2 separate regions of the Homo sapiens genome follow, and region 1 is linked to region 2. The links come from fine-mapping of genetic effects on gene expression. A gene starts in region 2. The other region holds a variant in brackets. All regions are shown on one strand. Distances are between the middles of the regions.

The links.
Region 1: its variant is fine-mapped to the expression of DUSP3 in whole blood (INTERVAL, PIP 0.95).

What each region holds. Positions count from the first base shown.
Region 1 is chr17:44,376,131-44,384,130 of GRCh38, reverse strand. ITGA2B (integrin subunit alpha 2b) reads left to right here. Exons shown (of 30, transcript NM_000419.5): 10 at 1-46; 11 at 185-237; 12 at 427-638; 13 at 3,070-3,252; 14 at 3,486-3,531; 15 at 3,641-3,745; 16 at 3,830-3,885; 17 at 3,978-4,129; 18 at 4,317-4,442; 19 at 5,421-5,488; 20 at 5,622-5,769; 21 at 6,341-6,433; 22 at 7,043-7,122; 23 at 7,743-7,823; 1 more. Among named protein-coding and RNA genes, the nearest start is that of ITGA2B, 9.5 kb to the left of the region's middle. RefSeq lists an enhancer at 3,718-4,674. The variant G/A (reference allele first, on the strand shown) is at 4,379.
Region 2 is chr17:43,767,042-43,782,164 of GRCh38, reverse strand. DUSP3 (dual specificity phosphatase 3) reads left to right here and starts at 3,188. Exons shown (of 3, transcript NM_004090.4): 1 at 3,188-3,365; 2 at 7,227-7,453; 3 at 12,351-15,123. The coding sequence starts at 3,241. The coding sequence ends at 12,556. CFAP97D1 (CFAP97 domain containing 1) reads right to left here and starts at 1,730. Exons shown (of 6, transcript NM_001136483.3): 1 at 1,579-1,730; 2 at 976-1,046; 3 at 273-391. The coding sequence starts at 1,702. RefSeq lists a silencer at 3,008-3,697 and an enhancer at 3,630-3,924.

The DNA.
Region 1 (8,000 bases), 610 kb before region 2:
TTTGGATTCCTACTACCAGAGGCTGCATCGGCTGCGCGGAGAGCAGGTGGGGGCCAGGTCCCAGTGGGCGTGGCTGGGTGGAGGGGGAACTGAGACTTCAGAATATTTCATGGGAGGTGAGGGCCCATTTCTTAAAGAGGATGCTTGTCCAGCGGCGTGAATGATGGTGCTCCTCATCTTGCAGATGGCGTCGTATTTTGGGCATTCAGTGGCTGTCACTGACGTCAACGGGGATGGGTGAGGAGGGACATGCCCCACCCCTACCCAGTTGGGTCCCAAATTACCAGAGCTGCCCTCTGTCTCCCTTTCCTAGCCCTAGTCTCACGTATCCACTGGAGGAACAGGAGAGCAAGGGTCGAGGAGATTTGGCCCTAGCCCCAATATACCCCTGGTCCAGTCCCATGTAACCACTCATCTGGCCCACAGGAGGCATGATCTGCTGGTGGGCGCTCCACTGTATATGGAGAGCCGGGCAGACCGAAAACTGGCCGAAGTGGGGCGTGTGTATTTGTTCCTGCAGCCGCGAGGCCCCCACGCGCTGGGTGCCCCCAGCCTCCTGCTGACTGGCACACAGCTCTATGGGCGATTCGGCTCTGCCATCGCACCCCTGGGCGACCTCGACCGGGATGGCTACAATGGTGAGGGAAGAGAGGAGCCCTACTTGCTGCAGAGGGGTTAACAGCCACTCAAAAAGCATGGAGTTGGCCTGAGGGCAGCCAGAACCAGGATGGGTTTTAAGCATATAAGTATGTGGCTTAGACACATGGGGTGCTGAGTGGAGAGCAGATGGGAGAGTTGAAGACTAATTAGGAAGTGTTTGCCTTAATCCAAGCAAGAGACAATGACCACCTGGATGTGGATTTTGGCAGTGGAGTTAGAGATGGGAGTGACTTCACAGATATTTAGGACTCGGATTATTAGGACTTGGTGGGAGACTGGATGTGGGGCCAGGGGAGAGGTTGGAGTTGGGTGCCTGTGATGGCCTCCACTGCCTGGAACTCAGGCCGTGCAGCAGGTGCTGGGGAGAGGCGGGAGATCAGCAGTTCAGCTCTGGACCTGTTGAGCTTGAAGGGCTTGGGTGCTTTAGGCGGAAATATCCAAAGAACAGTTGGGAGTGGCTCTCCCCGCTTCCACAAGAGAGATCTGAATGGGAGACAGGGGTTTGGGGAAAGTGGATGAGGTCCCGGGACCTGTGAAATAAGAGGCCCAGGATAGAGCCCTAGGGAGCAAAAGCATTTAGGTGACTCCTACAGGAGGTAAGTCTGAGAAGGAGACAGAGGAGTGTCCAGAGAGGGAGGAGGGAACCCAGGGGGTCTGATGGCCCGGGACTCAAGGAAGAGCATGCGTTAAAGAGCATGCACAGGAGGAAGTGGGCGCTGCAGCTCCTGCTGCTGCTGCAAGATACAATTAGGTGGGGCTGGAGAAATATTCATGGGCTTTAGCAAGAAGAGGGTGCCAGGCATGGTGGCTCATACCTGTAATCCCAGCTACTTGGGAAATTGAAGCAGGAGAATCTCTTGAACCCGGGAAGTGGAGGTTGCACTGAGCTGAGCTTGCGCCACTACTGCACTCCAGCCTGGGTGACAGAGCAAGACTCCATCTCAACAAAATAAAAAAAAAAATAGAGAAAGAAAGGAAGAAAGAAAAAAGAAGGGGAGGTTATTGGTGACAGTGACATAAATTGATTCAGGCCAAGATAGGGTCAGAAGCCAGAATGCAATGGGGTAAGGTATGAATGGAGATGAAAAATTGGATGCAGCTAATGTAGACAGCTCTTTCAACAGGTTTGTGGTAAAAAGGAATTTGAGGAATAGAAAGGAAAAAAAAAAACATGTTTGACTATAAGAGGAAAAAGAGAAAAGGTGATCACAGAAAAGAGATGAGGGTCAAGGGAAGATTATTTCAATGTGGAAGAACATGTAGTAGGTTGAAAATGATGTTGTGGGGAAATGGGGGGATGAGCCAGCAGAGAGTCCCTGTGATGCCTCAGGGGGTGGGAGGGTGACTGGCCCAGTGTCAGGGTGAAGGAAGGAAACCTCTTCCAGGGTCAAATGGGGAAAGGGAAAAGAAAGTTGGTGTGGGATTATAGCATAACAGTGGGCTGCCTCTCTTCCTGAAGTAAGAGATTACGTCACCTGCTGAAGGAAGTGTGGGGGGTCTGGGAGTTTGATGGAATGGAGAAGGCTAGAAATAGATGCTAGATGGCCAGGCACGGTGGCTCACACCTGGAATCCCAGCACTTTGGGAGGCCGAGGCAGGAGGATCACTGGAGCCTAGGAGTTTGACACCAGCCTGGCCAACATAGGGAGATCTCGTCTCCATAAAAATTTTTAAAAATTAGCTGGGCATGGTGGCTATAGTCTCAACTGCTTGGGAAGCTGAGGTGGGAGGATTGCTTTAGTCCAGAAGGTTGAGGCTGCAGTAAGCCATGGTTGCACCACTGCACTTCAGCCTGAATGACAGTGCAAGACTGTCTTAAAAATAAAAAAATTTTAAAAGGGGCTTGGGCACGGTGGCTCACACCTGTAATCCCAGCACTTTGGGAGCCCAAGGTGGGCAGATCACTTGAGGTCAGGAGTTCGAGATCAGCCTGGCCAATGTGGTGAAACCCCGTCTCTACTGAAAATACAAAAATTAGCCGGGCATGGTGGTAGGCGCCTGTAATCCCAGCTACTGAAGAGGCTGAGGCACAAGAATCACTTTAACGGGGGAGGCAGAGGTTGCAGTGAGCCGAGATCGCACCACTGCACTCCAGCCAGGACAACAGAGCGAGACTCCATCTCAAAAAAAAAAAAATTTAGAAAAGGGAATAATGATGCTTAATTTTCAGGATATATTTTCCTCAATAGACAGTGAGAGTTGTCACTGTTTTTATAACAATCCTACTTGGCAGGTCCCTCTCCCACCTGATTGTTAACTCCTGGAGGGTAGGGCAGTGCCTCCTTCACCCACACTTTGCACCCCTTTCCTAGTCTCCTGGGATGTTCCCAGAGAAGCTCAGGAAAGTTTTACAGTCATCTAGGGAGGCTGAATAACAATCAGCCACTTCCTTTCTGTTACTCCTTCCAGACATTGCAGTGGCTGCCCCCTACGGGGGTCCCAGTGGCCGGGGCCAAGTGCTGGTGTTCCTGGGTCAGAGTGAGGGGCTGAGGTCACGTCCCTCCCAGGTCCTGGACAGCCCCTTCCCCACAGGCTCTGCCTTTGGCTTCTCCCTTCGAGGTGCCGTAGACATCGATGACAACGGATACCCAGGTGCCCTGGACTGCCTCCAGCTAGAAATGCCCAAGAAAGGCCCTTGGACATTCGCTGGAAGTGCCAAGAGACACGGCCAGGGGCTCATGCCTGGCCTGGTGTCCCACTATGGACTGCCAGAGGGGCTGGGTGAAACCTCCAGTGGGGGAGGTGGTGTGGGGAACCCCTGGGAAGATGAGATGAGGATCCCATGCCCTAATCGCCAATTCTGACCCATTCCTCGATGTCTATAGACCTGATCGTGGGAGCTTACGGGGCCAACCAGGTGGCTGTGTACAGGTGAGCACTGGCTCCAGGGGCGGGATGGGGAAGGTCCTGTGCCATCAAGAGGAGGCCAGGCCAGGAGGAGCCACAATGGCAAGCCTACCCCATCACCCTATCCCATCAGAGCTCAGCCAGTGGTGAAGGCCTCTGTCCAGCTACTGGTGCAAGATTCACTGAATCCTGCTGTGAAGAGCTGTGTCCTACCTCAGACCAAGACACCCGTGAGCTGGTGAGGAGGCAGAGGGCATGGGCCTTAAAGGATCTGGGACCTCAGAAAGGCTCCAACCCCTGAGCCCCACTTACGTCTTTGCAGCTTCAACATCCAGATGTGTGTTGGAGCCACTGGGCACAACATTCCTCAGAAGCTATGTGAGTGGCATGAAGGGGGCAGGAGGGAGGTGGGCTTGGACTCCCCCGGAGGCTGGCCAGGGAGGTCCTGACTCTTCTGCTTGCCCTGCCAGCCCTAAATGCCGAGCTGCAGCTGGACCGGCAGAAGCCCCGCCAGGGCCGGCGGGTGCTGCTGCTGGGCTCTCAACAGGCAGGCACCACCCTGAACCTGGATCTGGGCGGAAAGCACAGCCCCATCTGCCACACCACCATGGCCTTCCTTCGAGTACGCCCAGGCAGGGGATTGGCAGGGCTGGGAGAGTAGAACTTACCCACTGGACTTGTTCATCTAGCCCTGGGGCACTGAGCTGGGTGCTGTGAGTCCGGGGGTGGTCAGGACACGGTGCCTACTGGCCAGGAGAAGGTGGGATGTGTATGGTAGCAAGATGGCCTGACTCTTGCCCCTGTCCTAGGATGAGGCAGACTTCCGGGACAAGCTGAGCCCCATTGTGCTCAGCCTCAATGTGTCCCTACC[G/A]CCCACGGAGGCTGGAATGGCCCCTGCTGTCGTGCTGCATGGAGACACCCATGTGCAGGAGCAGGTAGGGACAGGCAGGGACAGGCCAGGGAGGTGCAGGACCCCTGATAGCAAATCAGGATTAGGGTTAGTGCCAAGTCACAATGTGAACCCCAAAACCTTGATGTCATTCCAAACCCTAATGAAAACCTCAAAATCCAGCCAGTCATGGTGGCTCACACCTGTAATCCCAGCACTTTGGGAGACCGAGGCAGGCAGATTGCCTGAGGTCAGGAGTTAGAGACCAACCTGGCCAACATGGTGAAAACCCATCTCTACTAAAAATACAAAAAAAATTAGCCGGGTGTGGTGACGCATGCCTGTAATTCCAGCTACTCGGGAGGCTGAAGCAGGAGAATCACTTGAACCCAGGAGGCAGAGGTTGCAGTGAGCCAAGAGTGTGCCACAGCACTCCAGCCTGGGTGACAGAGCAAGACTCTGTCTCAAAAAAAAAAAAAAAAGCCAGGCGCAGTGGCTCACGCCTGTAATCCCAGCACTTTGGGAGGCCAAGGCGGGTGGATCACGAGGTCAGGAGATCAAGACCATCCTGGCTAACACAGTGAAACCCCGTCTACTAAAAATACAAAAAAAAAAAAAAAATTAGCTGGGCGTGGTGGCGGGTACCTGTAGTCCCAGCTACTTGGGAGGCTGAGGCAGGAGAATGGCGTGAACCCCGGGGGGCGGAGCTTGCAGTGAGCCGAGATAGTGCCACTGCACTCCAGCCTGGACGACAGAGCGAGACTCCGTCTCCAAAAATAAAATAAACACCTGAAAATCCCAGTATCCCCTAAGCTCTGATGTAAATTGACAAACCCTGACATTGTCCCAAACCTCCAAATAAACCCGAGCCCCGATACCATCTACAAACTCCTTTTCGTCCTCAGATCTTCTTACTCCCTAAGCCCCTATGTGAACCCCAAGCCCACTGTTTTCCTAACCCTGATGTAATCCCTAAACCTCACACATCCCCAACTTACCCGCACACCCCAATGTGCCCCTCTAGACACGAATCGTCCTGGACTGTGGGGAAGATGACGTATGTGTGCCCCAGCTTCAGCTCACTGCCAGCGTGTGAGGAGGCCTCCCATTCTGCCCGACCCTGGCCCTTTCTGCCTATCATACCTGCTCCACACCTTAGTCCCCTCTTTTCCCACATCCTGGGCCCAGACCCAGGCTCCCTGGCTTCACTCCTCTTTCCCCACAGGACGGGCTCCCCGCTCCTAGTTGGGGCAGATAATGTCCTGGAGCTGCAGATGGACGCAGCCAACGAGGGCGAGGGGGCCTATGAAGCAGAGCTGGCCGTGCACCTGCCCCAGGGCGCCCACTACATGCGGGCCCTAAGCAATGTCGAGGTATGGCCCCCACCCTGGGAACAGTACCCGGGACCTGGGAGGCACTGGAGCCTTGGCTCTCTCATCTCCCTCCCTGAGAGTCCCTCTTCTCTTCTGCTTTGCTGTCAAAGATGTAATTTTTTATTTTTTTTTTAATTTGGAGGAGGAATACTTGCTAATGGCACAGAATTCCAAAACTCTATTACAAAAACCAGAAAAACAAAAAAGGTTTAGGAACCAAATGTTAACAGGAACCTCTGTTAACATTTGGTGGATTTCCTTCCAGTCTTTTTTTCAATATTGACTCACACTCACATAAGTATATATTTATTTTTTATGTTGTTAATATAGTTTATAATAATGGGGGTCATACTCTAATGTTTTGTGTTTTTTATTTCCAAAATGAAAATGCCTAAAAAGTAGTAGTGCTACAGCAATACACACACTAGCATGTGACAGTCCCTTGAGACCCCACCCCAAGAAACCCCCCCCTCCCTACCTTGGCACACAAATCTTTCCAGACCTTCCAAGGGAGCTTAAATATATATATATGATGCTCTGTAATTTCTTTCTTGGAACTGCCTTCCTGAAGGGCTTTGAGAGACTCATCTGTAATCAGAAGAAGGAGAATGAGACCAGGGTGGTGCTGTGTGAGCTGGGCAACCCCATGAAGAAGAACGCCCAGGTGAGGCTGCTGGGTCGTGGTACCGGGTCTCCACCAGGGGCTCATGAATAACCAGATTTTAGGGGTGAGGTTTTAGAGCCACATAGTTCTGGGCCAGAATCTTGGTCCTCACACTCCCTTGCCACATGTCCTTGGGTGAGTGACTTTCCCTCTCTGAGCCCCTTTACCCAGTGGGCTTCCAGGTAAAATAGAAATAATAATGGTGGCCTGGTGCGGTGGCTCACGCCTGTAATCCCAGCACTCTGGGAGGCCGAGACGGGTGGATCACGAGGTCAGGAGTTCAAGACCAGCCTGGCCAACATAGCAAAACCCCGTCTCTACTAAAAATACAAAAATTACCCGGGCATGGTGGCGCACGCCTATAGTCAGAGCTACTCGGGAGGTTGAGGCAGAAAAATCACTTGAACCTGGGAGGTGGAGGTTGCAGTGAGCCGAGATCATGCCACTGCACTCCAGCCTGGGTGACAGAGTGAGACTCCGTCTCGGAAAAAAAAAAAAAGAAAAAGAATAGTGGTGATCTTGGAGGGTGAAGACTGGAGGCCACATTCAGGGCAGGGCTGTCCTAAGTGGGGCACTTGGGCAGTGACCTTGGCCCTCCTCATCTCCCAGATAGGAATCGCGATGTTGGTGAGCGTGGGGAATCTGGAAGAGGCTGGGGAGTCTGTGTCCTTCCAGCTGCAGATACGGAGGTACTGACCTGGCGAGCGTGCCTACCCACCACCCTTCCCCCGTCTGACCCCCGTGCAGAGCCCCTCAGGTCCCTTCCATACAGAAGGGTCTTTCGAGGCCAGGCGCAGTGGCTCACACCTGTAATCCCAGCACGTTGCGAGGCCAAGGCAGAAGGATCACTGGAGGTCAGGAGTTGGAGACCAGCCTGGCCAACATGGTGAAACCCCATCTCTACTAAAAATATAAAAATTAGCTGGGCATGGTGGTGCGCACCTACAATCCCAGCTACTCGGGAGGCTGAGGCAGGAGAATAGCTTGAACCGAACCTGGGAGGTGGAGGTTGCAGTGAGCTGAGATTGGGCCACTGCACTCCAGCCTTCCAGCCTGGGCGACAGTGCGAGATTCTATCTCAAAAGAAAAAAAAAAAGGTCTTTGAAGAAGCCTGGTTCCCTTTCTTCCTCAGAGATTTATGTCTGAGTCTTGGAGCCCTAGAGGAAGTTCTTTCCCAGGTCTAACTTCAGTGTGGCATGCTCTTTGTATAATTAGCTCTCTCTGAACTCTCTAAAATTCTGGCCTCACCCCCAGAAAGTCACTGGGCTGGTGTCCCTGGCCCTGTTTCTCCTCATCCCCTCCCCTCTAGCAAGAACAGCCAGAATCCAAACAGCAAGATTGTGCTGCTGGACGTGCCGGTCCGGGCAGAGGCCCAAGTGGAGCTGCGAGGGTGAGAGGCCAGGGGTGGAGAAGGGAGATGGCATTCAGGGCTCTAAACTCCAGGGGGCGCTGGGGAAACCTCACAGGCCAATCAGGGCATCACACTCTCTCTGGGGGTCTTGGGCACCTGCAGGAACTCCTTTCCAGCCTCCCTGGTGGTGGCAGCAGAAGAAGGTGAGAGGGAGCA
Region 2 (15,123 bases):
ACATGGCCACCATTTTATAAAAGTGCGCAGTGCATTCTTGTGACACACTGAATAGGACTCTGAAAAGTCTCTTCGATGAAATAAAAGCTCTTTAATGCTAGAGAAAGGTCCCCATTTTTAAAGTTTTCATTCTGTGTAACATGGTCTGTTTGGTTCTCCCTCAAGATAACTTCCCTTAAGTACTTCTCTGACTTGGGAAAACCTCACACTAAAACCCAAGAGGAAAGTCAATTTTGACTTTTCAAAACTGAAATGAAGACAAAGAACATTACCTCTTGGAAAAATATTCATTCCAGCAATCCACCTTGGCAGGGCCGCGATGGGCATTTGCGATTTTCTGACACAGTTGCTTGTTTTCATACTCGATTTTGTTGATTTTCTTTTGTTCACCCTGGTAAGAAACCACACCTCACCATGGTGACACCATCAGTGCACTGCCCCAACACACAATGACTTAGTGTTCCCCTCCTCTGAGATCGTGGGAAAGGGGTGCATTGAGGGCCACAGTGGAGACTGGAAGCAGAACTTAAAAGACTGGGCGGCCGGGCACGGTGGCTCACGCCTGTAATCCCAGCACTTTGGGAGGCCGAGGCAGGCGGGAGGTAATGAGACTAAGACCATCCTGGCCAACATGGTGAACCCCTGTCTCTACTAAAAATATGAAAAATTAGCTGGGCATGGTGCCACATGCCTGTAATCCCAGCTACTCTGGAGGCTGAGGCGGGAGAATTGCTTGAATCTGGGAGGCGGAGGTTGCAGTGAGCCGAGATTGTGCACTCCAGCCTAGGCAACAGAGCGAGACTCCGTATCAGGGGGGAAAAAAACGACTGGGGGTGACGCGTGGGGAGGAGGAGTATTAACAAATCTTTGAGTAGATGGGTATTTAGAAGGCTCTGGGAAATTGAACCTCTTTAGGAAACAGACTGGAAGTCAATAAAATACATCTGCACATCTGCAAGCAGCAAGAACAAATACCTGTAGTTTGCTCAATTTTAAAATGTGATTTGTGTGCGCCACTGGAGGTTTGGTATCAACAGTAGGCTTCGCTAGAGAAGGGGGATAAAAGGGAACAATGTTACATCACAGGAATTCCAGTAGCGGCCTCAGAAAACCAGCACTAGACAATGTCCTTGACTAATGAACAATTTCGAATTAGGACCTTAATGCGACTCAAGAAGTTTGGTTTGATTTATCAAATGAACATCTCTGGAGAGTTTTGAGCAGAAACAAAAGAATAGTGAAAATAAAATTTACAGAGATAAATGTCCTTCTAATCCAATGAAAGAGCTTCTCTTCCAATCTTTTTCCAATATTATTAGCCTGTCTATTGGCTTCTGAAGTCTTATCCCCTTTCTAACGTACTTCGGCTTTAAGGAGTTTAAAGGAGTATTTCCATCCAGTGAACTCCCTGGTGGAAGATACATTTTGTTATTGGTGCTAATGCCCTCTTCCCCAAACTCAGCAGATAAGGCCATATCATCCCAAAGCTGTGACCTGGTCTGGTTTCCTGTTGATCTCTTTATGGGGTACCATTCCAAAATCCCTAATAGCAGTGTCCAGCCCAAACTGCCCACATACCTATTTGTATTCTATTCTTGTGAGATACGTAGTGGCCAAAGTCCAGTTTCTTTCTGAAGGTTGTGCTTTGCCTGTGATTAGAGACGATAACAGGGTAGGCCAGATAATCCAGGGAATTGTTCATCTTCTCTTCCTAGTCTCACTTCAGAAATGAGGTACCCAGACTCCTCTGTGAGGTGCCTAGCTGTCCCCATGACAAGCTGTCATAGTTACCCAGTTATGACATCAGGGACAGGTCCCGGGAAGGGAGTAGGAGCAGCAGAGCATGGCTGGCTGCCTCTGGGCTTGTGTTTTTAATGCTAACCTCGGCTCAAGTCAAGATGAAGGTCAAGGAACTCGAAAGCTTTCCCCGCTGCTTAGAATGCAGATGCTGCCAGCCAACACCAGAAGGAAAGAAGTGGTGCACCGGGAGGGGTGGGCAGGCACGGGGTGGGGTGAGGGATACAGAAATTCCAGCCTTGGTTACACATCTTGGGCTATCAGCTAAGTAGTCTCCACTGCAATAGCTCCCCTGAAGGTGCAAGACCACAAGTTTTGGAGGAGGAGAAAGTTGACCCTAATGATAATCGGATCCAATTCCTTTTGCAAATGAGGAAACTGAAGACCACAGCAGCAGCAACGTTACTCAAGAACCAAGTTGGTGGCAGGGCTGGGCTCAGGATGTGGGGTTCCTGAATTCAAGGCCAAATTTGCCCTTTTGCAGGAAGGAAACTGCCAGTTTTTCATGGCAGTAGGGGAGGGCAGCTTTCCTCCAGTACAGAGACTATCTTTTGTACTTAGTGGGAGTTCAGGAAATGCTGAGTGGCTTATGGTGGGCTGGCATCTGCTCCAGGAAGGGCTGCAGGAGTCTGATTTATCTCCACCCCAGCACAGGGTATAGCACCCACTGGGTGCTCAACGCATTTGTTGATGAAGGACTAACACCTATTGAGTGCTCGCCATGCAGTGCTGGGTGCCTTCTTTGAATGTCACATTTAACCCTTCCAGCAACCCTAGAATTAGGTACCATTACTATCCCGCTTTTTTTTTTTTTCCCTGCAAACAGGCTCAGGTTAAGTAATTCCTCAGAATTCCAAACCTGACTGCTTTTAAGCACGACGATGACTCTCAATGAATGTTGAAAGCAGATGCGCCCCAGAGTAGGGCTTCTCAGACTTTGACCGTAGGGACCTCCTGGGGTCCGTAAAATGTCCACTCTGATCCAGCAGGGCTGGGCTGGGGCGGGGATTCTGTCAAGCGCCCGGGTGGTGCCTCCACTGCAGGGAGCCGCTCACGAGCCGAACCCGGCGGTCCCTGTAATCATGAAAGACTGAAGCGACCCCTAGGTGTACCTCCGCCACGAAATGTTTATTGGGCCCTGCATTTAATTCAGGGAAGGAAGTTACCGCGCTTGCCAGTTTACAAAGATACACAAACGGCCTGGACCGGGATGGGGCGAGGACCCCTGAGACTCCAGGGCGGTGGCGTCTTCCCCCCGGGACGCGCCCAGGAGTGGCGCGCGGGGCCCCCGCGTCACGGCGCCCGCGCTCCGCAGCTCCCGGAGCCCGGCGGGCCCGCCCCAGGGGCGGGACGGGGCGGCTCCCGGCGCGAGCCCCCGCCCAGCTGATCCGCCGCTCTCCGCCTCGCTTGCTCCTGCCGGGCGTGCAGGGCCCCGCCGCCGCCATGTCGGGCTCGTTCGAGCTCTCGGTGCAGGATCTCAACGACCTGCTCTCGGACGGCAGCGGCTGCTACAGCCTCCCGAGCCAGCCCTGCAACGAGGTCACCCCGCGGATCTACGTGGGCAACGCGTGAGTCCCTTTCGCGAGCCCGGCCCCGCCGTCCCTCTCGGGACGCCCCGCCCACCCGAGGCTGGGGTCGGGGTGTCGCGAGTCTTGGGTTGGGGGAGCCCGGGCGCGATGGCCCCTCCGGGAGCCACAGCGGGGGCTTGGGAGGGGCCTGGAGTCGACGCCTACCCCCGCGCGTGGGGCCAAGGAACTGGAACCCTGCCTGGCCGGGCGCGGCCCTTCCCCGTGGCGGGGTGCACGGAGCCCGGGTGGCGCCTGCCCGGGTCCCAGCCGCCACCCGCTTGGGGCTTGGCCTTGGGCGGGGTCGGGGCTACCATGTTCACTTAACAGGTGACCCTCGGTCGCCCGGCCGGTCTCCTGCCCGCGCGTCATGTGACAGCTGCCTGGTTCTGCAGTGAGGTCACCGCGGAATGTCTGCCTTCGCCGCCATGGCAACGGGCCGACGTCACAATTCGGGCATGGAATTTTCCCGGCCCGGCAGTCCCGGATCAGGGAACCTAAACACCCCAAATGAGCGAGTCCGGGGAGCTGGGCCGGGATTTCCAGGCCCCCACCTTCCAGATGTGATTTGATTTACAGGAGATTCTAGAACGGTCCAGTGATAACCCCCCTAAGGACCTGAGCCACCACCTAGAAAAGGCTCTTGACCTTTCACCCCCAGGCTCTGTCACCCAGGCTGGAGTGCAATGGCGAGATCTCGGCTCACTGCAACCTCTGCCTCCTGGGTTCAAGCAATTCTCCTGCCTCAGCCTCCCGAGTAGCTGGGATTACAGGCGCCCGCCACCACGCCTGGCTACTTTTTGTATTTTTAGTAGAGACGGGGTTTCACCATATTGGCCAGGCTGGTCTCTTGGCCAGGCTGGTCTCAAACTCCTGACCTCATGATCCGCCCACCTCGGCCTCCAAAAGTGCTGGGATTACAGGCGTGAGCCACCGCACCCGGACAGTAAGAGATTTTTTTTAATTTAAATTTTAAATTTTTTTTCTAGTAAGAATGTCTAATCAGCAGGAAAGAACCAGTGTTAACATTCTGAGATGTGAAATAGGAGCCTCAAGAAAGAATATATTAGCATGCCTGTACAGCCTTGGAAAGCCTCAAGTTGGATTTTCACGATACTCTGAGGACCCAGTTACCAAAATCCTAAGCTTCATGGCTCAGCCCAAGGATGGCATGTTGAAAACTCAAAACTAACCCTCCTCCCATTTTACAGAGGAGGAAATGGTGGCTCAGAGTGTGTGAGGGACTACAAGGACAGGGTCAATGTCTTGTTCATGTATGTATTTCCTGACCTCCGCTATGACCTGCTGTTTAGCCTGCCAAGGACTGCCACGGAAATGGGGGTCATCATGGAACTAGAAGGGGTCCATCAGGCCCCAGCCTCATGGGGACAGTTCTCATCCATTCCATCATTCATTCACCAGTCTGAGCACCTGCTTTATGTCAGGCACTGTACAATGTTCATTCATAGTAGAGATAGTAATAATGATAATTGTAAATTTTTTGAATGTTGAATTATTAATAGTATTAGAGGCCTGGCACGATGGCTCACGCCTGTAATCCCAGCACTTTGGGAGGCCGAGGCGGGTGGGTCACCTGAGGTCAGCAGTTCGAGACCAGCCTGACCAACATGGTGAAACCCTGTCTCTACTAAAAATACAAAAATTAGCTGGGCATGGTGCCTGGCGCCTGTGATCCCAGCTACTCCGGAGGCTGAGGCAGGAGAATCGTTTGAACACGGGAGGTGGAGGTTACAGTGAGCCAAGATCGTACCGTTGCACTCCAACTGGGCAACAAGAGCGAAACTCCATCTCAAAAAAAAAAAGTATTAGAGAAGGGAGATGAATGGGAGTGACTCTTCAAAGTGTTTTTTTCTATCAGCCACTGCTTCACAGTCTTGCGCGGTGTCCTAAGCAGGAATAAACAGAGTCCCACAGTGTCAGCCAAAGGCTTCAGGAATTGGAAAGCTCTAGAGACACCCTTCCTCTTGCACCAAGCAGCAAGCAGGCCTTGTTAGCCTCAGGAATCCCGCTTGCTTGGGCAGGTTGGCCATTCAGCTGTCATCACTTCCCAAGTGGAAACCAAGGTTGTACACGTCTGGTGTAGCCAGAGTGGCAATTGCTGATGGCCACTGTAGAAAATACATCCCTTGCCCTCTAAGCACCTCTGACCTTGACTTGGCCAGGGGTGTGGGGGTTCCTCAACAGGGAGGATCAGTGAGCACCAAGCACCAAGAGGATTTGGGCTCCATTCCCTTAACAAAATCAGGGCCGCAGCCACGTCCTCACAAGGCAGAGCCAGAGCCTGTGTGAGCCACATGTGCCAGGCCTTGGGGGTTTTGCAGCAGATGTGGGCATGAGGGGCAGAGTGAGGTGGAAGATAGAGCAGGGCTGGATGTCGGGAGAAAGGAGGTCTTCTCCCAGATCTGCCACCAGCAGCACACGGGGCCTGTGCCCATCCCTCTGCTCATCCTGTTGGGCCTGAGTTCAAGCTCTGTTAAGCAGGGATATTGCCATCCTTGTTCCTCACAGGGCTGCTCGCAGTGGGCAAGCAAGATCACACAGGAGGTGGCATTTTATAAAGTATAAACTGCTATTTGGACTGGGATGTTTTGTGAGATGAAATAAAGGGGCCTTTTCACCATTCAGACCAATTATTATTTTTATTTTATTTTATTTTATTTTTCGAGACGGAGTCTCACTCTGTCACCCAGGCTAGAGTGCAATAGCACAATCTCAGCACACTGCAACCTCCACCTCCCGGGTTCAAGTGATTCTCCTGTCTCAGCCTCTGTAATCCCAGAGTAGCTGGGATTACAGGCATGTACCACCACACCCGGCTCACTTTTGTATTTTTAGTAGAGACGGGGTTTCACCATGTTGGCCAGGCTGGTCCCGAACTCCTGACAGGTGATCCACCTGCCTCGGCTTCCCAGAGTGCTGGGATTACAGGTGTGAGCCACTGCACCCGACCTTAGATAAATTATTTTGTAACCTCCCATAGTTCTGTTGGGGCCACTTACTCCCCAAGTACTAAATCACCCAAAAGAGCTTTGGAAACGTAGCCAGTGGAATGTGGCAGGTAGGATCCCTCTGGGGGCAGGGAGGGGGCTGCCTGGTACGTGACAAATTTATTCTTTTGCACTCATTCACCGCTTATTTATTCAGCACCTACTATGTAGCAGGTACTATAGCAGATGGTGGGGAAACAGACTTAAAGCAGACATGGTTCCTCTCTCAAGGAGCTCACAGTCTGGATGTCTAAACACAGAAGCACAATCAAGCATTAGAATCATAGTGCTCACTACCGTGTCCAGCTCTGTCAATGGAATAGCCCATTTAATACTCATAACAACCTCAAGGAGAAGGCACTGTTATCCCCATTTTACAGAGAGGGAAACTGAGGCACAGAAAGGTTAAATGGCTTGCTTAAGGTTGCCTGGCTAGTACCTGGGCAGGATGCAGACCCAGTTAGTCTGGTTCCAGAGCCCATCTGTAACCAGTTGGCTATGTACACCCCCACCACAGCTTAGGGAGCATGGGGCCAAATGGAATGGAGGGGAGACAAACACTGCGGAGGGTGTGAAAGATGAGAGGGCGCATTTCTCCAGAGAAGGTGGGAAAGAGCATTCCAGACAGAGGGGACAGCATGGCTATGAAACCACCAGTCTATTTGGGGAAGCTGCTGGCAATTCGATATGGCCAGAGTGAGGGAAGAGGTCATAAGATGAGGCAGGAGAAGCTGGCAGGGGCCAGAGCATGGAGGGTTTCCTTGCTTTGCTAAGAGGCTTAAATCCTTCTCCATCTTCCTCCCCCTGGGGCTGCCATTTGGTTGGTTAATCATCCCCACCACTGTCTCCTGTCCAGGTCTGTGGCTCAGGACATCCCCAAGCTGCAGAAACTAGGCATCACCCATGTGCTGAACGCGGCTGAGGGCAGGTCCTTCATGCACGTCAACACCAATGCCAACTTCTACAAGGACTCCGGCATCACATACCTGGGCATCAAGGCCAACGACACACAGGAGTTCAACCTCAGCGCTTACTTTGAAAGGGCTGCCGACTTCATTGACCAGGCTTTGGCTCAAAAGAATGGTAAGGGACCTCCCACCAGGAAAAGATGGGAGGCAGCTCTGACTGGACTGTCCCTCTGGAAAACAGGCCCACAACAGGTCTCTTCTTAGAAACTCCCTTGTTTCCCATCTTCTGGGGTGAACGACAGAGCTGTAGGTCTCTCTCTGCTCACCTGGCTGGCTGTCAAGTGGCCCCGTGTGTCACAGGATGTGCAACTCATTCACACCATGGCAGCCCCAGGGTCCTCGCGTTTGACTGCACTTTGGCTGGAGGTTGGTTTCCAGTTGCTTACACGTCCCCCATTCAAACAGCTGTAACGATGAGGAAGATGTGTTAATGTGTTAATGTGCATGGCAAGAAGTCCTGAGGTGAAGGAGCATGGGGGCTGGTTGATTAAGGGGCTGCTTGATTCAGCAGCTCCATGGTGGCCTCTGGACCAGGCCCTTTCCCTTTCTCTCTTCTGCCACCTCAGTGTTGGGTGCTCCCGTCATGGTCCCAAGATGGGATCCAGTCACCACATCCAAGCAGGACAAAGTACAGCAGATGAGGCCCTGCAGCCATCTCTTCCCACTCTTTTTTTTCCTCTTCTCTCTCTCCTTTTTTTTTTTTTTTTTTTTTTTTAGATGGAGTTTCACTCTTGTTGCCCAGGCTGAAGAGCAATGGCGCGATCTTGGCTCACCGCAACCTCCACCTCCCAGGTTCAAGCGATTCTCCTGCCTCAGCCTCCCGCCTCAGCCTCCCAAGTAGCTGGGATTACAGGCATGCGCCCCCACGCCTGGCTAATTTTGTATTTTTAGTAGAGATGGGGTTTCACCATGTTGGTCAGGCTGGTCTCCAACTCCTGACCTCAGGTGATCCGCCTCCCTCTGCCTCCCAAAGTGCTGGGATTACAGGCATGAGCCACCGCGCCTGGCCACTCTCTCTCTCTTTTTTAAAGAGACAGGGTCTTGCTATGTTGTCTAGACTGGTCTCCAACTCCTGGGCTCAAGCAGTCCTCTCACCTCAGCCTCCTGAGTAGCTGGGACTACAAGCACGTGCCACCATGCCCAGTCTCTCTCTTTAAGAACAAGTAAAACATTTCCCAGAAATACCCCTCACATCTCATTGGCTAGAGATTCACGTGATTGCCTGGCAAGGAGAAAAGGGGTAGCTGCGGTCAGCTTAGGTTGGCAGTCAGCAAACCACAGCCCCCCTGGCCAAATCTTCCAGCCACTTACGAAACACTTCCTGCAGCCCCCAAATATAAGATAAGACTGAAGGAGAACTACCAAGGCGCTGGCAGTCACCAAGGCATTCCAGCAAGAAACCCTAGAAGGCCACAAAGCAGACATCAGCTGAGCAGGCTGGGCCACTTGCCCTTTCTCCCTTTCTGCTTTTAGCTGTTTCTCTCAGCTCCTCCCTTTACCTCTTCGTCTCTCCCCACCCCAAACCCTCCCAGCGGAGGGGACCCCCATGAGGTGTGAACAGCCTTGGCTGTACTACACTGATGACTCTTGGGCCCAGCAGGCTCACTGTCTGAATGATTTCCAGTAAACAGAATTTTCTAGACCACTGGACAGTGAACGCTCAGGGCTCAGAGAGAAGCTTTACTGTGGAGTATCTGCAGACTTTGCTGACAGGCCCCTCATGGTCCTTCCTGGTCACTGTCACCCCCCAACCCTGCTCACCTCCTCCACTCCAGCTGTACTGAGTTCCTCACCCTGTGTAAACATAGGCTGGGCGAAGGGGAAGGATTTTGTTGTTCTCGTATAATAGCAATTGGTTATTCATTCAGGGAATTTCAAGCTCTCTGACTTTGTTTCCTCTTTCCAAACAACTAGGAACACGCCCTTTTTTTGACCTGTCTCAGTCCAGGTGTGCTGGGTCTTTAGTCTGAAAAGTTCTCTCTGCCTCTCCCTACCCCTTCCTCTGGCAAACTCCACCTTGTCCTTGGCATGGTGTCCTCTCTTCCATGAAGCCTGCCCTCAGGCTGGGTCTACTTTGTTCCTTGTCTGTCTCCTTAGCACCTGATGTAGCATCAGGCACATAGTAGGTACACTGCAAATGATGAATGAGCAAGTGATGAAGAATTCCATGGGCTCTAATGCCAAGTATAAATGCTTCTAAGAATGAGTGGCGAAGTGAGTCAACAGAAACATGCTGGCCTCCAACAGTGTGTGGGGCCCAGGGACCCATCACTGAGAGCTGGGTGGGATGGCTGAGGGTACTCAAGAGGGAGCAGTCACTTCTAGCTGGGAAAACAGCTTCATGGAGGAGGTGGCATCTGGGCTGAGCCTAGAGGAATGGGAGGTTGAACTGGCCCCTTTCCCAGTAGGCTCTGTGTGCACTGGGCATGCAGAGTATGTTCTAGATGGTAAGGTGGCTGCTCTGCAGAGGGTCTCATTCCTAGGGTGGGGCAGGGGAAGCCCCACTCTGAATATTTCGGGCATACAGGCCGGAGGGTGAATGGGCAAGAAAGTGGAGGACTCCTGCTTCCTGATTTGGAAGGCATTGGGAAAATAGAGTGGTGTTTTGGGGGTAGGGTGATAGGAGCAGAAGAGACTCTGTTGGACTCTGGGCTAGCAGATTCCTTGCCAAACAATGGCCTTATAGAGGTGTTAGTAGGTAATAATTCACTCAGCTAGTCAGCAAATATTTATTGAGCACATAGTGTATGCTAGAGATTGTAACGCATCCAAAAATCAATGCCCCACATTTCTTGCCTTTTTTTTTTTTTTTTTTTGAGACGGAGTCTCGCTCTTGTCACCCAGGCTGGAGTACAGTGGCTCAATCTCAGCTCACTGCACCCTCCACCTCCCAGGTTCAAGTGATTCTCCTGCCTCAGCTTTCTGAGTAGCTGGGATTACAGGCATGTGCCACCATGCCCAGCTAATTTTTTGTATTTTTAGTAGAAACGGGGTTTCGCCATGTTGGCCAGGATGGTCTCGAACTCCTGACTTCAGGGGATCCGCCCACCTCGACCTCCCAAAGTGTTGGGATTATAGGTGTGAGCCACCGTGTCCGGCCATTTCTTGCTCTTAAAGAATTCGTCCTCTGGGAGAGAAAAGTCAATCTGCGCATGTCTGGCAATGACACAGGACCAGGGCTGCTGTAGTTGAGGGTGTACTAGGTGCTACCAGAGGATGCCCAGTATTGGGTAACATTTATTGAGTGCACATGGATGCCAGGTGCTAACCTAGAGGATTCATGTGTCCTCTCCTTTAATCTAACCACCTTGTGCAATGGGTACTATTGGCCAGATAAGAAAACTGAGGCACCTTGAGGTTAGGTGGATCATGAGTTAATAACCAGTGTATTGGTCAGGATTCTCTAGAAAAAACAGAACCAATAGAATATACAGTCGGTCCTCCATATCCGTGGGTTCCACATCTGTGGATTCAACTAACCTCAGTCTGAAAAATATTAAAAACAACATAAAAAGATGTTATGTCTGTACTGAACATGTACAGATTTTTTTTCTTGTCATTATTCTCTAGATGATATAATCTAATAAATGTTTACATTGTCTTGGGTATCATAAGTCATCTGGAGATGATTTAAAGTATAGGGGAGGATGTGCTGTGCAGAGGTTATTTGCATATATGATGTCATTTTATAATCAGGGACTTGAGCATCTGTGGATTTGGGTATCGGCAGGAGGTCCTGGAGCCAATCTGCCCTGTGGATATTGAGAGATGGTGTCTATTTATATATATATATATACACACACATACACACACACACACACACACACACACACACATATATATACACGCACACACACACTATATTAAAATAACCCCACCTCTACTAAAAGATACAAAAAAATTAGCTGGGCATGGTGGCATGCGCCTGTAGTCCCAGCTACTCAGGAGGCTGAGGCAGGAGAATTGCTTGAACCCGGGAGGCGGAGGCTGAAGTGAGCCGAGATCGCGCCACTGCACTCCAGCCTGGGCAACAAGAAGGAAACTCCATCTCAAAAAAAAAGAAACAAAACACTACCAGCACCCTGGAAAGCACCCCCAGTCTCTATGCTCCACCACCCCCATCCCCAGCTCCCAGGGCCTCTGCCACGCGGGCTTCTTTTTTTTTTTGAGACAGAGTCTCGCTCTGTCACCCAGGCTGGAGCACAATCTCAGCACAATCTCACCTCACCGCAACCTCTGCCTCCTGGGTTCAAGCAATTCTCTGGCCTCAGCCTCCTGAGTAGCTGGGATTATAGGCTCGCGCCACCACACCCAGCTATTTTTTTGTATCTTTAGTAAAGACGGGATTTCACTATGTTGGCCAGTCTGGTCTCGAACTCCTGACCTTGTGATCCAGTTGCCTTGGCCTCCCAAAGTGCTGGGATTACAGGCGTGAGCCACTGTGCCCAGCCCCTTGCAGGCTTCTGACAGCACAGATGGTTTTGCCCGCTTTCCTACTCTGTGGGCTCATCCACCTCATATGTGTGTGCTGCCTCCGTGTTGCTTCTGCTAAGTGGCAGTCTGGTCATTCTTTGTATTTGTCCTTTCTACTGTGGATGGGCCTTTGGGGGTTTCTAACTGTGGGCCATGATGTGCAGTGTTGCCTGTGAACATTCTGGCCCATGTTCGTGAATGTGAATGCGTATCTCTATTGGACCTGGGCCTGGGAGTGGGATTGCTGGGCCAGAGGGGATGCACGTGTTCAGCTTGAGGAGATACCGCCGTGCCGCACAGCTTTCCAAAGTGGTTGTGCCAATTCACGCCTCACCTCCCCCAGCCACGCAGAAGAGTTCCAGTTGCCCCATATCTTCACCAGCACTTTGGGTTTTCCATCCTTTTCATTTTAGCCATTCTGACAGGCACACAGTGGCGTGACATTGTGCTTTTAAGTGGCACTTCACGGAAGAGTCTTGACCAACGCCATGGTGTGATGGGACGCCCCCAGCTCACCACGTCTCCCCTGTTTCTTACAGGCCGGGTGCTCGTCCACTGCCGGGAAGGTTATAGCCGCTCCCCAACGCTAGTTATCGCCTACCTCATGATGCGGCAGAAGATGGACGTCAAGTCTGCCCTGAGCATCGTGAGGCAGAACCGTGAGATCGGCCCCAACGATGGCTTCCTGGCCCAGCTCTGCCAGCTCAATGACAGACTAGCCAAGGAGGGGAAGTTGAAACCCTAGGGCACCCCCACCACCTCTGCTCGAGAGGTCCGTGGGGGAGGCCGTGGGCAAAGGTGTCCCGAGCTGCCATGTTTAGGAAACACACTGTACCCTGCTCCCAGCATCACAAGGCACTTGTCTACAAGTGTGTCCCAACACAGTCCTGGGCCACTTTCCCCACCCTGGGGAGCACATAAAGAAGCTTGCCAAGGGGGGCGTCCTTGCTCCCCAGTTGTCCTGTTTCTGTAACTTATGATGTCTTTTCCCTGAGATGGGGGCTCAGAGGGGGAAGGCCTGTGGCCTGCATGCTTCCCGATGGCCCACGGCAGGAGGTGTGTGGAAGTGTAAGGCCTAAGATGCTCACAGAGGTCCCTCATGACCTCCCTTCCCCAACTCCCGAATCCTCTCTTGAGTGTGGACCTCAACACCTTGAGCCCTAGTAAAGGAACTATGCAAATGCAGGCCACTCTCCCCACCACGTCTGTGCCCTGCACTGTCCCCACAGCCTTCCACACCCTGTGCATAGGCAGCCCTCTCACGTCTTGAGGTCCGAAGCTGGGGTGGGGGTGTCCGTCAGTTATTAGTGGATGGAGATTCCCACAGCAAGGCTGCATTTGAATGATTTCCTTAGGATGAATGGTCCCTACACAAAGAGGCCTTGTGGGCAAACCTGGAGAACCCTCCTAAATCCATAGAGTTTTCAAAATGTGAATCTTTGGAAGCCTTGAGTTCAGAATCTGCTGCTCTGGAATATTTCCCTTCGATCTTATCTCAGTCACTTCGTTTTTGAGAAGAGTGATGCCTTGGGCATGCTTTTTTTTTTTTCTTTTTTAGAAAACAGGGAGTTGAAGTCCAACCTATTTAAAAACCCCACCATTTGGAGAATTACAAGGGTTTTGTCCTGAATTGTAGTGTTGGCAAGCCCAAGCCACTCGTGCTAACTGCTTTTTGTCTCGGTTGCTATTCCAAGAACAGAAGGAGGAAGTTGGCCAATTACAGCGTGTGTGCATGGATGTGTGTGGGGGGCGTGCCTCTCAGAAACGCGGCCAGAAGACAAGCAGGGAAGTGAAAGGTCCCAGGCACACACCCTGCCCATTGCAGGTGGCTCTTACAGCTCTCTGGTGCCAGCACGGGATCCCTGAAGTGACTCAGCCAGGCAGACATGAGACATGGCGGAGTGTCCAAATGGATCCTTTATTGGTGGTAGAGCAAAAAAACCCAAACACGATAAACCTTTCAAAAGACTTTCTAAGGATGATATTGGAATGCACCAGCCCTCACATGTGTATGCACATTTGCCAGAATATAAGAGTTTTGTTTTAAATACAGTCTTGTTAGGATTTTACGTTATTGTTATTATGGAAAGTGATTGTGATGCTATTTATCTTCAGGGTCACTCTGGGCAAAGAGAAGGTCCTCAGCCATGCCCCCAGCACCTTGCACATAGGTGTCTGATAAAAGTTTAAGAAAGTAAACACTTTTTGAGCACCAAATATATATAGGGCATTGTTCTGGTGGGTGTGTCACGCTCCCAGAAGACTGAATTCATGGTAGGATCACTCGCAAGGCCTTGTGAAGGAGTCTTACCTAAAACGAAAGAAATATCAGGGACTTTTGTTGACTATTTACAACTCAGTTTTACATTTAAATTCAGGCAGTGTTAATATGCCAAGGTAGGGAATGTGCCTTTTTCAGAGTTGGCCAGGAGCTCCTGGCTGGGACACGGAGAGGCAGGTGTGGCGTAAGGCCTCACTCCCGGCTGGGAAGGTCTCTGATCACACAGAAGCAGCCCTGCCCAGCCTGGTCATTTGCTGTCCGCTTTTCTCTGTGACCACAGCAGCCCTGAACAACCAGTATGTGTCTTCTTCTCCAGATAGTGAAAAAGGTGTCCAGATAAACCCACCTAAGTGAAATGGCCATCCTCTAAACTGGGTACCTCACTGCACAGCTTCTAGGTAGCCTTCCAACTTAATCTAACTTGAGCCTCACAGTAACCCTGTAAAGTTAGTAGAGCTTGTTCTTGTATTGTGACCTTTTTTAAAAAAAAGGAACTGAGGTTCAGAATGATTAAGGGCCTGGCCCCCAGGGTTGTCCAGCTCCATAAGGTGGAGCTGGGCAAGATTTTGGGTTTGCTGCTCCCTGAAGCTGGATTCTTTCATACGATACTCTTTCTCAAGAAGGGGGCTCCCTGGGATCTCCAGGTGTACTGCACTTACCCTCAATCCAGCCCCGGAGAAGCAAGTGAAAAGGGTGGGTCCCTCATAGGCTAGAATGTGCAGCTCTTTCTCCAGGTGGGATGTAGCACCCCGAAGTAGAGCTTTCTGCTCTGCTCCTGGAAAAGGCTAGGGAGCTGGGGCTGGGGCTCCCCTCCCATGACCAGGCAGTGGTCACCCCATGGGACAGGCACAGCTACTTACGCGAACACAGCAGGTTGGTGTGGCTGGCTAACTAGGACCTCTCGAAAGTCTCTGTGGGGGCATGAGGGAGAAAAGGCCATTGGGAGAATTACTGCCTTTACTTTGGGACTACTTTTATGCTGATAACTTGGGATTTCTTGATAGTCCTTCACCCCTGAAACCCCGTATTTA